2 separate regions of the Homo sapiens genome follow, and region 1 is linked to region 2. Evidence: fine-mapped QTL for protein levels in blood plasma. Region 2 holds a variant in brackets. A gene starts in the other region. All regions are shown on their forward strands. Region 1 holds the start of AXL (AXL receptor tyrosine kinase). Region 2 holds the start of SWINGN (SWI/SNF complex interacting GAS6 enhancer non-coding RNA).

Evidence for each region. PIP is the posterior inclusion probability: the model's chance that the variant is causal. The UK Biobank Pharma Proteomics Project read protein levels with antibody pairs (Olink). The fine-mapping took linkage between variants from a reference panel, not from the people measured, so its PIPs are less certain.
Region 1: it holds the start of AXL, and the variant in region 2 is fine-mapped to the plasma level of the AXL protein (UK Biobank, PIP 0.96).

Annotation. Positions count from the first base shown.
Region 1 is chr19:41,216,997-41,222,360 of GRCh38, forward strand. It overlaps AXL (AXL receptor tyrosine kinase), which reads left to right and starts at 2,227. Exons shown (of 20, transcript NM_021913.5): 1 at 2,227-2,481; 2 at 3,640-3,862; 3 at 4,150-4,250; 4 at 4,884-5,060. The coding sequence starts at 2,397. RefSeq lists enhancers at 1,368-2,192, 4,443-5,364 and a silencer at 1,801-1,940.
Region 2 is chr13:113,926,800-113,932,163 of GRCh38, forward strand. SWINGN (SWI/SNF complex interacting GAS6 enhancer non-coding RNA) reads right to left here and starts at 2,192. Exons shown (of 1, transcript NR_047495.1): 1 at 1-2,192. It also overlaps a transcript of C13orf46 not described here. RefSeq lists an enhancer at 4,138-4,207. The variant A/G (reference allele first, on the strand shown) is at 2,168.

The DNA of each region.
Region 1 (5,364 bases), not on the chromosome of region 2:
CAATAAATATATAATGACAACCCAGGCAAAGTGTTGCCAAGGAAAGGGACAGCATGTTGGGAGTGAACAATATGAGGACCTAGATTGGGCTGGGGGGGCCAGGCAGTGATGCGATGGAGAAGGGATGATAGAGTTGGGGACAAAGTGCTGCAGGAGGTTGCTCCAAGTCCTCTGAGGGGGCTCTTTGGGTGAGAAAGCGAGAGAAGCCTGGGGAGGCGAGGGGAGGGTCACAGAAACATAAGGAGTTTAGGGTTCTGCTGAAAGGTTTGGGGCAGAGGTGGGAAAGGGTTTGGTTTGAGATTGGGAAGAAGCCTTCTGACTGTTGAGTGGGAGACAGGTTGGAAGGAGCAACAGAAGCCAGCAGCCCATGGCCGGGCACAGTGACCCACGCCTGTAATCCCAGCCCTTTGGGAGGCCGAGGCGGGCAGATCACGAGTTCAGGAGTTCCAGACCAGCCTGGCCAACATGGTGAAACCCCGTCTCTACCAAAAATACAAAAATTAACCTGGCATGGTGGTGCACACCTGTAATCCCAGCAACTCAGGAAGCTGAGGTGGGAGGATCACTTGAACCCAGGAGATGGAGGTTGCAGTGAGCCGAGATCGAGCCATTGCACTCCAGCCTGGGCAACAAAGCAAGACTGGGTCTCAAAAAAAAAAAAAAAAAAAAAGACACAGCCCAGGGAGACAACGGTGAAGGGCCCTAAGTGGCCAGTGACAAGGAGCTGGGAGCTTGCCCTGAGGGCAGCAGGAGGCCATGGGCAAGCAGAGAAGGGACAGGGTAGGATTTGACTTTCAGAAACAGTCCTCTGGTTGCTAAATGGGAGAAAGGAGTGACAGTAGAGGCAGGAGAAGGCAGGATCAGACGGGGGTGCTGGGAAGGGGCAGGTAGAAGAGACATCAGGAGGCCAAACAGATAGGACTTTATGATGCACCGTAGGTATACCAGTACCCAAACACAGGTGGCCAAGAGCAGAGGGATAGACGCCCAGCCTCCTCCTCACAGACATCCAGGCATGCAGAGCCCTCCACGTGCCAAACACACAGGGCCGAGGAATGGAAGTGCAGCAGAGCCGATACGCAGGCAGCAGATCTGCAATAACCAGGACACACAGTCCCACCAGAAGGAGAGAGCAGTGGAATGATCAGGGCTCACTGCAGCCTCGATCTCTTGGACTCAAGCGTTCCTCTCACTCCAGCCTCCCTAGTAGCTGGGACCACAGGCACACGCCATGATACCTGGTTAAGTTTTAATTTTTAAACTTCTTGTAGAGATGGGGGTCTCAGTGCATTGACCAGTCTGGTCTCGAACTCCTGGGCTCAAGCGATCCTCCCACCTTGGCCTCCCAAAGTGCTGGGATTACAGGAGTGAGTTACTGTGCCCGGCCAACAACTATTCTTATTCCCATTTTACAGATGGACAAACTGAGGCTCAGGAGGCCAGTCACTTGCCTGTAGCCCACAGTTAGTGGTAGCACTGGGATTCCAACTTGGGTCCCCTTCATGTCGCCTGTATTTGGTGTCCCATTTAGGCGTCCATGCAGGTTTTGGCGTGTCTGAAGATCTGTGTCTCCCCAAGTAAGTGTCCCCCATGGATGCCCACCCAGCCGTGTCCTCCTGTCTCTGAGGTTTCTCCAGGAATCGAGCTCCTGGCCTGGCTTGTCTGAGTGTGTCTGTGGGCCAGTAGCATGCCCCTGCCCGTCTGGGTCCCTCTGCGTGTCTCTGCTTGTCCTAGCCTGTGTGTGTCAGTGACGTCTAAGAGTGTGTGTGCGTGCGTGCGTGCGTGCGTGTGTGTGTGTGTGTGTGTGTCCTTGTCCGAGGAGCCGAGAGAGTGAGGGGGAATGAAGGGCCAAGGAGGCCTGGCTGGGGCTGGGCTGGGGGTGGAGGCGGGGAGAGGGGCGTCACGGCCTGAGCTGAGAGGGGAGTGGAGTTCTGGAGGAATGTTTACCAGACACAGAGCCCAGAGGGACAGCGCCCAGAGCCCGGATAGAGAGACACGGCCTCACTGGCTCAGGACAGGGGGCACAGCCACCAGGGTCCCCTTCCCCCTCCTCAGCTCCCTCCCTGGCCCCTTTAAGAAAGAGCTGATCCTCTCCTCTCTTGAGTTAACCCCTGATTGTCCAGGTGGCCCCTGGGCTCTGGCCCTGGTGGGCGGAGGCAAAGGGGGAGCCAGGGGCGGAGAAAGGGTTGCCCAAGTCTGGGAGTGAGGGAAGGAGGCAGGGGTGCTGAGAAGGCGGCTGCTGGGCAGAGCCGGTGGCAAGGGCCTCCCCTGCCGCTGTGCCAGGCAGGCAGTGCCAAATCCGGGGAGCCTGGAGCTGGGGGGAGGGCCGGGGACAGCCCGGCCCTGCCCCCTCCCCCGCTGGGAGCCCAACAACTTCTGAGGAAAGTTTGGCACCCATGGCGTGGCGGTGCCCCAGGATGGGCAGGGTCCCGCTGGCCTGGTGCTTGGCGCTGTGCGGCTGGGCGTGCATGGCCCCCAGGGGTGAGTGATGGGGGCTCCTTGGGGCAGGGATCCCCTCGGAGGGGCTGGGGCAGGGGTAGGAGGTGGGGGATGATGGCAGGTGTGGGGGGCCTGGGCTGGCTTAGGGAGTTTCCTTGGGACCACAGAAAAGGGACTTCAAGGGAGGGAGACACAGACTCAGAGACACCAAGTGCGGCAGAGGGAGAGAAAGACTGAGAGAGGAACTGAAGGGCAGGGGGGACAGAAGAGAGGACCCGGAGAGACAGACAGACAAGGAGAAGCTGAGGGCAGGGGTGGGGGCTGGACCTGAGAAGGGGGCCATGGGGAGAGGGGCTGAGCTGAGGGTCGCCAGGAAGGAAGAAATCTTTCCGAAGGGGCACCGAGTCAGGCAGTGGGATGAGGAGGGCTCTGGAGCCCTGGGGGAAAACGCTTCTCCCTGCCAACACCACCCCCCTGACCCGCCACTTGTCCCTACCCCACCAGTCCACTCCATCTCTGGGGAGGAGGCTCTCACTTTGTCTCTCTGTCTCTGCCTCCAGCTCTGCTATCTCTGTGGGTCTCTGTTTCTCTCTCTTTCACAGTCTCTGCCTTTATCTCTCCCTGCTCTCTGAGTCTCTCTCTCTCTTCTCAGCCTCCCTCTGTGACTGTATCCCCCCTCCGCCCCCACCTTTTCTTCTCTCTTGAGGGCTGTTTCTTCATTTTTTCTGTCTTGCCTTGTATCTGTGCTCCTCTCTGTCTCATCTCCCCTGCCTTTCTCTGGCTTCTCCCTCCGCCACCACCCTTATCTCCCCCCACCACCACCCTTATCTCTCTCCCCCAACCCCTGATTCTTCCCCTCCATCCACCAGCACCAGCGCGACCTGTTAAGTCTCTAGAGACCTAAGAGAGGACGGAGGGGGCAGGGGCTGGCCCTGCCAGGCAGTGCAGGGCGTGGGAGGCTGCCAGATCCCGAGCCTCCTTCCCGACGGGATGGACGCTAGATCCCAGTCCCTTGGGAGGGCTCCCGTCCTCCTCTCAGAGCCTCCGCCCTCCACCCCACTCTGAGGTCACTCTGCAACTATGTCGGCCTAAGGGCCTGGCGGGGTCCTGGCCGCCGGTGGGCAGGCAAGGACAGGGTGGAACTGAGGGCCGGAAGGAGCTGGGGGGTTCCTAAGCTAACTCTTCCCATCTCCCCTCCAGGCACGCAGGCTGAAGAAAGTCCCTTCGTGGGCAACCCAGGGAATATCACAGGTGCCCGGGGACTCACGGGCACCCTTCGGTGTCAGCTCCAGGTTCAGGGAGAGCCCCCCGAGGTACATTGGCTTCGGGATGGACAGATCCTGGAGCTCGCGGACAGCACCCAGACCCAGGTGCCCCTGGGTGAGGATGAACAGGATGACTGGATAGTGGTCAGCCAGCTCAGGTGTGTGGCCACATCCCCGAATCCCACTCCCACCTCCGTCACACAGAGGGCAGAAAGCCCACCTGGGTGGGAACCCCAGTTTGACCACTTGTCAGCCGTGCGGCTTTGAGCATGTGATGGAACCTCTAGGTTTCGTTTTCCTCTTCTGCAAAATGAGTTAATAATAGGACATACTTCGTGGTTGTCATGAGCTTCCAGACTGGACACCCTCTTTCCGTTCTGACAGACCCCCTCCCAGTGTCCAGCTCTGACCCTGAACCTCTCTGTCTCTCCTCTTGCCCTGTCAGAATCACCTCCCTGCAGCTTTCCGACACGGGACAGTACCAGTGTTTGGTGTTTCTGGGACATCAGACCTTCGTGTCCCAGCCTGGCTATGTTGGGCTGGAGGGTGAGCTCTGGGGTCAGGGGTCCTGAGGGGTCAGAGGACATGTGGCGCTCATAGGTTGTGGGAAGTCAGGAATCCTGAGGGGTCAAGGTCAAAGGGTGCTGGAGGATTCAGGATGAACCTAGCGTCATACAGCCTAAGAATGTCAGAGTTTTGGGTGGTCAAGAAGCTGGGAGTCCATATAAGTTATGGTGCCAAGGCTGGGGGATTATATGTTCTGGGTGAAAAGACTTCTTGGGGGTAGTTGGATGTCCTAGGCATCAGACACCATCAGGTCACAGGAGGCCATTCTGGTCTTCAGATAAGGCGTCAGAGGCACGCAACGTACCCCTGTCCCCACGACCCCAGCGGTCTCTTTTTTCTCATCCATAGAATGAGATGAGGATGAGCTGTCAGACATTCTGGAAGAGAGACATGAGGAGCTCAGCTATCGTGGGGGGTCTGACATGGGAGGAATCAGATATTGGGGTCACGTGTGTGTTGGGTATGGCTCAGGTGCCCTCGGGGATCAGATAAGGCAAGTCAATGACCCTGCAGGGTGGGTTTGCTGCCCAAAGCCTACAGCATCCTAGTGGTGAGTCAGGCATCTTGGGGCCTCAGAGGGACCCCAGCCTCTACCACTGCCCACCCCGCTAGGCTTGCCTTACTTCCTGGAGGAGCCCGAAGACAGGACTGTGGCCGCCAACACCCCCTTCAACCTGAGCTGCCAAGCTCAGGGACCCCCAGAGCCCGTGGACCTACTCTGGCTCCAGGATGCTGTCCCCCTGGCCACGGCTCCAGGTCACGGCCCCCAGCGCAGCCTGCATGTTCCAGGTGAGTCCGGGGATGTGGGTCAGCTCCGAATAGGGGGCCGGGCAGGGCTGAAGTCAGGAGCAAGGGAACATTGCTACCTCTGCGTGAGTGTCTGACTGTCCTTCTGTCCCTCACTGTCTGTCTCTCTCGTTTCTCCCTCTGAGTCTGTCTCTGCCTCTCTGTCTCTACCTATCTTATTTCTCTCCGTATGCCTTTTTCTGTCTCTTTCTGTCTCTTGGTGTGTGTGTCTTTCTGTCTCTCTTTGTATGTGTCTCTCTCTCTGTCTCTCTGCTTCTCTCTCCCTCCATTCACCCCGGCCTCTCTC
Region 2 (5,364 bases):
AGCCTACCTATACATGTGCAGTGTCACATTACTGAGACGATTCTGTTTAGAGCAAAGCCACCTACCTCCCACGTCCCTTTCCAGCCTGTCTTCTTAGCCACCTGCCTCCCACATCCTTCTCCAGCTTTGTCTCCTTGCATGCAGCCCTCTCAGGGCTTTTGAGGCCTGGAGGCCAAGGGTGCTGGGAGGTCCCACTTTGTACCCTCTCCCGAGAGCTTTGAGGGGTACCTGCCGCCTCTAGCTGTGCCTTCTCTGTGCCCTTCAACTCTGGAGTGAGGTCAGATCTTGGCTCTGGGGCCACCACCAGCTGTTTCAGGCTTGCAAAGTTCTGTCCGACAAAATACAGCTCCGCTTCCCTGTGGGGGGAAGCATTGGCCCCAACAGGCCTTCTTCACCAACGGGGACAGCAGTCCCTTGAGTGGAGCCCTGGACTCAGGGAGCTCTGGTCAGTGAAACTCTCAGCTAGGGGCTAAGGGTATGGGGACCTTCATATGTGGGACAGGCTCCTCGCTGGGGACGCTGCCACCAGGCCTGTGAGGCAGCCAGCCAAGTTCCACTTGCTGCAGCTGGGGCTGCTCTGGACGGCCAATCCAGACACCTCCCCCCTCTCCACCCTCTTTCCATCCTCAGGTTTGCATTTCTTAGGTCTGGCACTTCAACTGCAAAGTACAAGTCCTGGGCTATCTCCTCCTGCTCTGCTGAAGGCCACATCGATGCTTGGAAGGTAGGGTCAGCCCAGTCCCTTGCTCCACACACCCAACTACACTGATGGAGCGACCGTCTACACAGGGATCCTACGGTGGGGAGTGAGCCTTGCTGGCCTGATGCATGGCAGTGGTTCCTGCTCCAATAAGACCAAGAATAATTAATAACTGTGACTAAGTTAGAAGCTTTGGCTGCATCTGAATTCACCAGCGTTTCCAGCTCCTGAGGCCATGTGCGGTGTCACCTCACTCCTGGCAGACAGACTCCCACTCGGAGGATGATTTTTCATAGCCAGGGTCGCTCTGTGGACCTTGGATGGACCAACGTGCTTTCCATGTCCAACTTTGTCAAGATCCGGGGAAGATTCTCCAGCAAGTCTCTTGGAAACATGTGCATGTGGCCCCAGGCGACGTGAGGGGTGCAGTCTGCCTGCGTTATGCAATGCTCAGGCCAGTTTTCCCTGAGAGAGGAATGCTGCCGATCCTCTGCGGTAACCCACAAAACTCCACGGAGATGCTTGGAAGGAAAAGCATCGCGTCCTCCAGATGTTTTGAAATGTTCAAGTATTTAAAAGGGAAATGGAATTTCTGTTTATCCTTTTAAGTGACAATTATTCATTGCGTCTTCCTGGCCACAGCTCATTCAGCACTACTGCAGATCCGGCCAGACCCCCAGGAGCCGCGGCCCCTGCACAGCCAAGGCCAAGAAGCTCCCATCGTGGAGGGGGGCGCATTCCGGACCTGTGAGGCCCGGGGTTCGTTTTTATGCCTCCTTAAAGGGATGAGCCAGAGAAGAAAGTCTTCGCAAAGCCTTTGCCCCAGGAGGGGCGGGGCTGCGCAGGGCGCCTGTGGAGGCCGTGGCCGGGCAGGTGGGGAGGCTCACACACAGGCCAGAGGCTTCCCTGGAAACTGACGCCCTAGGGCAGGTCCAGCTCCTGGATGGTCGCAGGTGAAGAAACGCCAGGCCCAAGGGTCCTGGGAGAGAGAGGGGAACAGCGCCCAGGAAGAGGTGCAGGTTCCCAGGGACTGCAAGGGCCGCCGCCACCCTCCCACACCCCACCCTCGCTGCATCACCAGTCAGCCCAGGGCAGGCTGCTGACCCTCCCTTGGCCTCAGTTTCCTCATCTGTAAAATGGAAAAAGAAGCATGTCCACCTCACCAGTGGTCACAGTCACAGGTGCTGACATGGAGAAGGATTGATGCGTCCTCCTGAGTGCTGCCTTGTCATGCTATAAACCAGGAGGCCTGGCTCTCTGCCTCCCGGGAAGGTCTGTTTCTAATCCTGTGCTGGGTCTGCGTGGCTCCATGGCCTCAGAGGCTGACACCGAGTGTGGTGTCCCTGGGTCACCGTGCTCCTTGGTTTGGTCCAGCAGGAGAAAGGGCAGCCTGCCAAGGAGAAGGCTGTGAGCTTGGCAGGGGAGAACTTAGGCGCTGTGCCTTTGGGAGGCTGGGATTTAGATCAC[A/G]GCTGGGAAGCTAAGTCCTGACTGCACTGGCCGGAACCAATGGGCTCCAGTAGCCGGATGCTCTGCCAAGTCAGGAGGTAATAACCGCCACGGCCTGGGAGAGAAGCTGGCACAGCCGTGGGCCCCTGCCCTGCGGTCTGGCCTCGCAGGTCCCCAGGCCGTGTACAGACACTGTGCGGCAGGGAAGCAGAGGCAGCCATGGGGAGCAACCCTGTTTCTCAGTGCTACATGCCTACTCTCCCTGAGCTGATGTCTGGAAGACAGTAAAGGAGACCTGAGGCAGTGCTGCCCCTCCTTCCGTCTGCCACCTCCTCAGGGCTGGCCCAGGCCCTGCAGAGCAGGTGGTGGTGGCTGCTGGTGGTAAAGCCCGTCCATCCAGAGCCTCGCTCTGCTCCCAAACCACCCACCTCCCGCTGCACATGTGGCAGCTTCAGGAGCCTGGCGGGGCTAAGAGGAGATGACAGACCCCAGCAAGGACAGGCTCAGCTTCTTGGGGACCGAGTCATTGCCTGTTGCTTCTCCTGGGGGCCTCGACTGTCCGAGTGTGTTCAGGCACACGGTGCCCTGTCTGTTTCCCAGGCACTTGGGCCAAGGCTGGACAGGGAGGTGCCATGTGGGACGAAAGCCCAGGCTGTGCAGTGCTGGTCACCGGGAGTGACCATGGGTGAAGTCGCGCTGTGAGTGACTGCCTGTTATCACTGACCACGCAGGGCCATCCTGGGTGACCCGCTGTGCCACAAGCAACTGGTTCACATTGGAGCCCCCCTCTGGAGCCCTGGGCAACCCGCTGCCAGTGGGCCTTTCTCCTGAGGCCCCTGGAGTCCCGGAGCATCCCGTGAGTTCATCTGCCATACCTGTGATTGCCATGTGGGCCCAGCGCCCTCCAATGGAAAAGCTGCATTCAGTTCTGCCCGAGGATCCCAGGCCTACGACACTGTCCTCAGGCTGCCAGGGAGCAGGAGGCTGTGGGGATCTGCGTTCTTGCCAGGCCTGGGAGCAGCAGCCAAAAAGTGGACTTACGTGGACAAAATGTTGGGCCAGGGAGGAGCCCTCGGCTCTGGACGGATGTCTCTGGTGCTTTTATGCCACGTGCATTTCTGCAGATTTGATGCCCGGCAGCCAGCACTGGGCTGTGGCCATGGTGGTGAGGCAGCCTTGGGTCTGCACGAGGCTCGGAGGCCTCCAGGAACCTCCCAGGAATGTGACTGTGCCTGGAGAGAAGCGCCATCTGCACGGCGCAGTCCAGATGCTTCTCTCCTACAAGCCCATCATCAAACACACAGCTGCCCAGACTTCAGCAGGATTTGTGCACAAGAAACGCAAAGGCACAGTCCATCGGGTGAGGCAGAGGTGGAAGGAGCACCGGGGTGGGAGTGGAGGAGCACCGAGGTGGGGGCGCAGGAGCACCGAGGCGGGGGCGCAGGAGCACCGAGGCGGGGGCGCAGGAGCACCGAGGCGGGGGCGCGGGAGCACTGAGGCTGAGCTGTCTCTAGTGATCTCTCAAGCCTCAGTGCAGTGGCCACAGGGCAAGGTGCCTCCTGGTGTGTCCTCGCCTCCAAATCAGGCTGCTCCACTTCCCAGGTCAGAGTCCTGGGGGGTTGTGTTGACCCTGAGCCCCCACGAGCATCCAATCCAGCAGAGCTGGAAGGACCCAAGAACCTGCATTCCTCATGGCTCCCATCATGCTTCCGGTCCAGGAGCCACCATCCAGACCACACTCCCATTCATCCCCTGGCCACGGAAGCTGAAGCCTTGGTTTCCCCACCTGTAAAGTGGGAGTATCAACATCACCCACATCAAAGGGCCTGGATTAGATGCGGTGATGCCCGTGGACTTTAGCAGCCCCGGTCCTCCAGGGGCCCTCCCAGGGAGCTGAGGCCCGGGTGGTCCTGGCGGCCGCTCCTTCTCCAGGCCGAAGACAGGAAGGTCTCTTGGGCTGACCTCAGGCAAGAGGCGGGGTGGGTCACGGCCTCCAGGGCCAGGCTGGGGCCTCCACAGAAAGCCCGTGGGTGGCGAGAGGGAGCCGGCTGGGGTGACTGAGGGTCGCTGGGTAGATGAGGGAGGGACCCGGGGTTCTTGTGTTCACGTGTGTATTTGCCCCGTGTTTCTGCTGACATGCCACGTGTGCAACAAACAGGCTTGGCGAGCCATCCCCACCACCCAGGCCGAGACGCCAGACGTGACTGGCACCCCAGGGTTCCCTCCCGGCCCCCAGAGGTAACCCCAATGCTGGTTTACCACAGATGACTCATTCTGCCTGTTTTAGGGTTTTGAGTAAATGAAACCCAACAGCGTGCAGTCTTTTTGCCTGGCTTCCCTTTAACCACGTCTGAGAGGCTCACTTTGCGGTTGCTTCTGTGGCTCCTGGACAGTTTCCCTTGTGCGGACACAACTCAGTGAGAGCACCCCTTCTTCCATTTGTAGACTTTCCAAATAGTCCAGGCGAGAGAGGCTCAGGTCTTGAGTTCAGGGAGGGGCAATGCACAAGCAGACGCCAAGTGGAAGGGAGTACACCCCTCCCTTGGCGGGGAGGCCCTCGGGCTGGTGGGGATGAGCGCCCCTCAGACGGCACCTGCGGGTGACAGGGTGTGACATTCTGCTGTTTCTCGGAAGTAACTCGCAAGCAGCATGGGGGTTCCTAGTGTGTTTCACAGACTCTCACCAAATGTTAGGGTTCACTCCTTGTCCTACAGCTTAAATACACCAAAAGTGAGAAAATTACGAGATAACATTTCCCTCAGAGACCCATATTCTGTGTTAAAGAATTCTTCCTTCTACCTAAATCCATCTCTTTACGGTCAGATGTCATTGGTTGTGGTATTTTGTCCATTTTCAGCTTTGTTTAGATTTTTTTGACATGCAATTAAATGCCCATATTTAAGACGTACGGTTTGATAAGTTTTGACATTCTGCTGCACCCACAGAGCCATGACCACAATCGAGACCATGGACATCCCCTCCCCCAGGCTGGCCCCTGCCCCGTCCCTCCACCCTCCTGCTCCTCTGATGACACTGACCTTTCTGTCACTGTAGATTAATTCATTTCTGTCCTGGGTAACACAGCGTGTATACTCTTATTGCCTGACATTGTCTCACAGTGTAATTATTTTGAGATTCATCCAACAATTCATCCTTTCAATGCTGGGGAGCACTAGTTGCATGGGTGTATCATAATTGGTTCATCCACTGACCCGTGG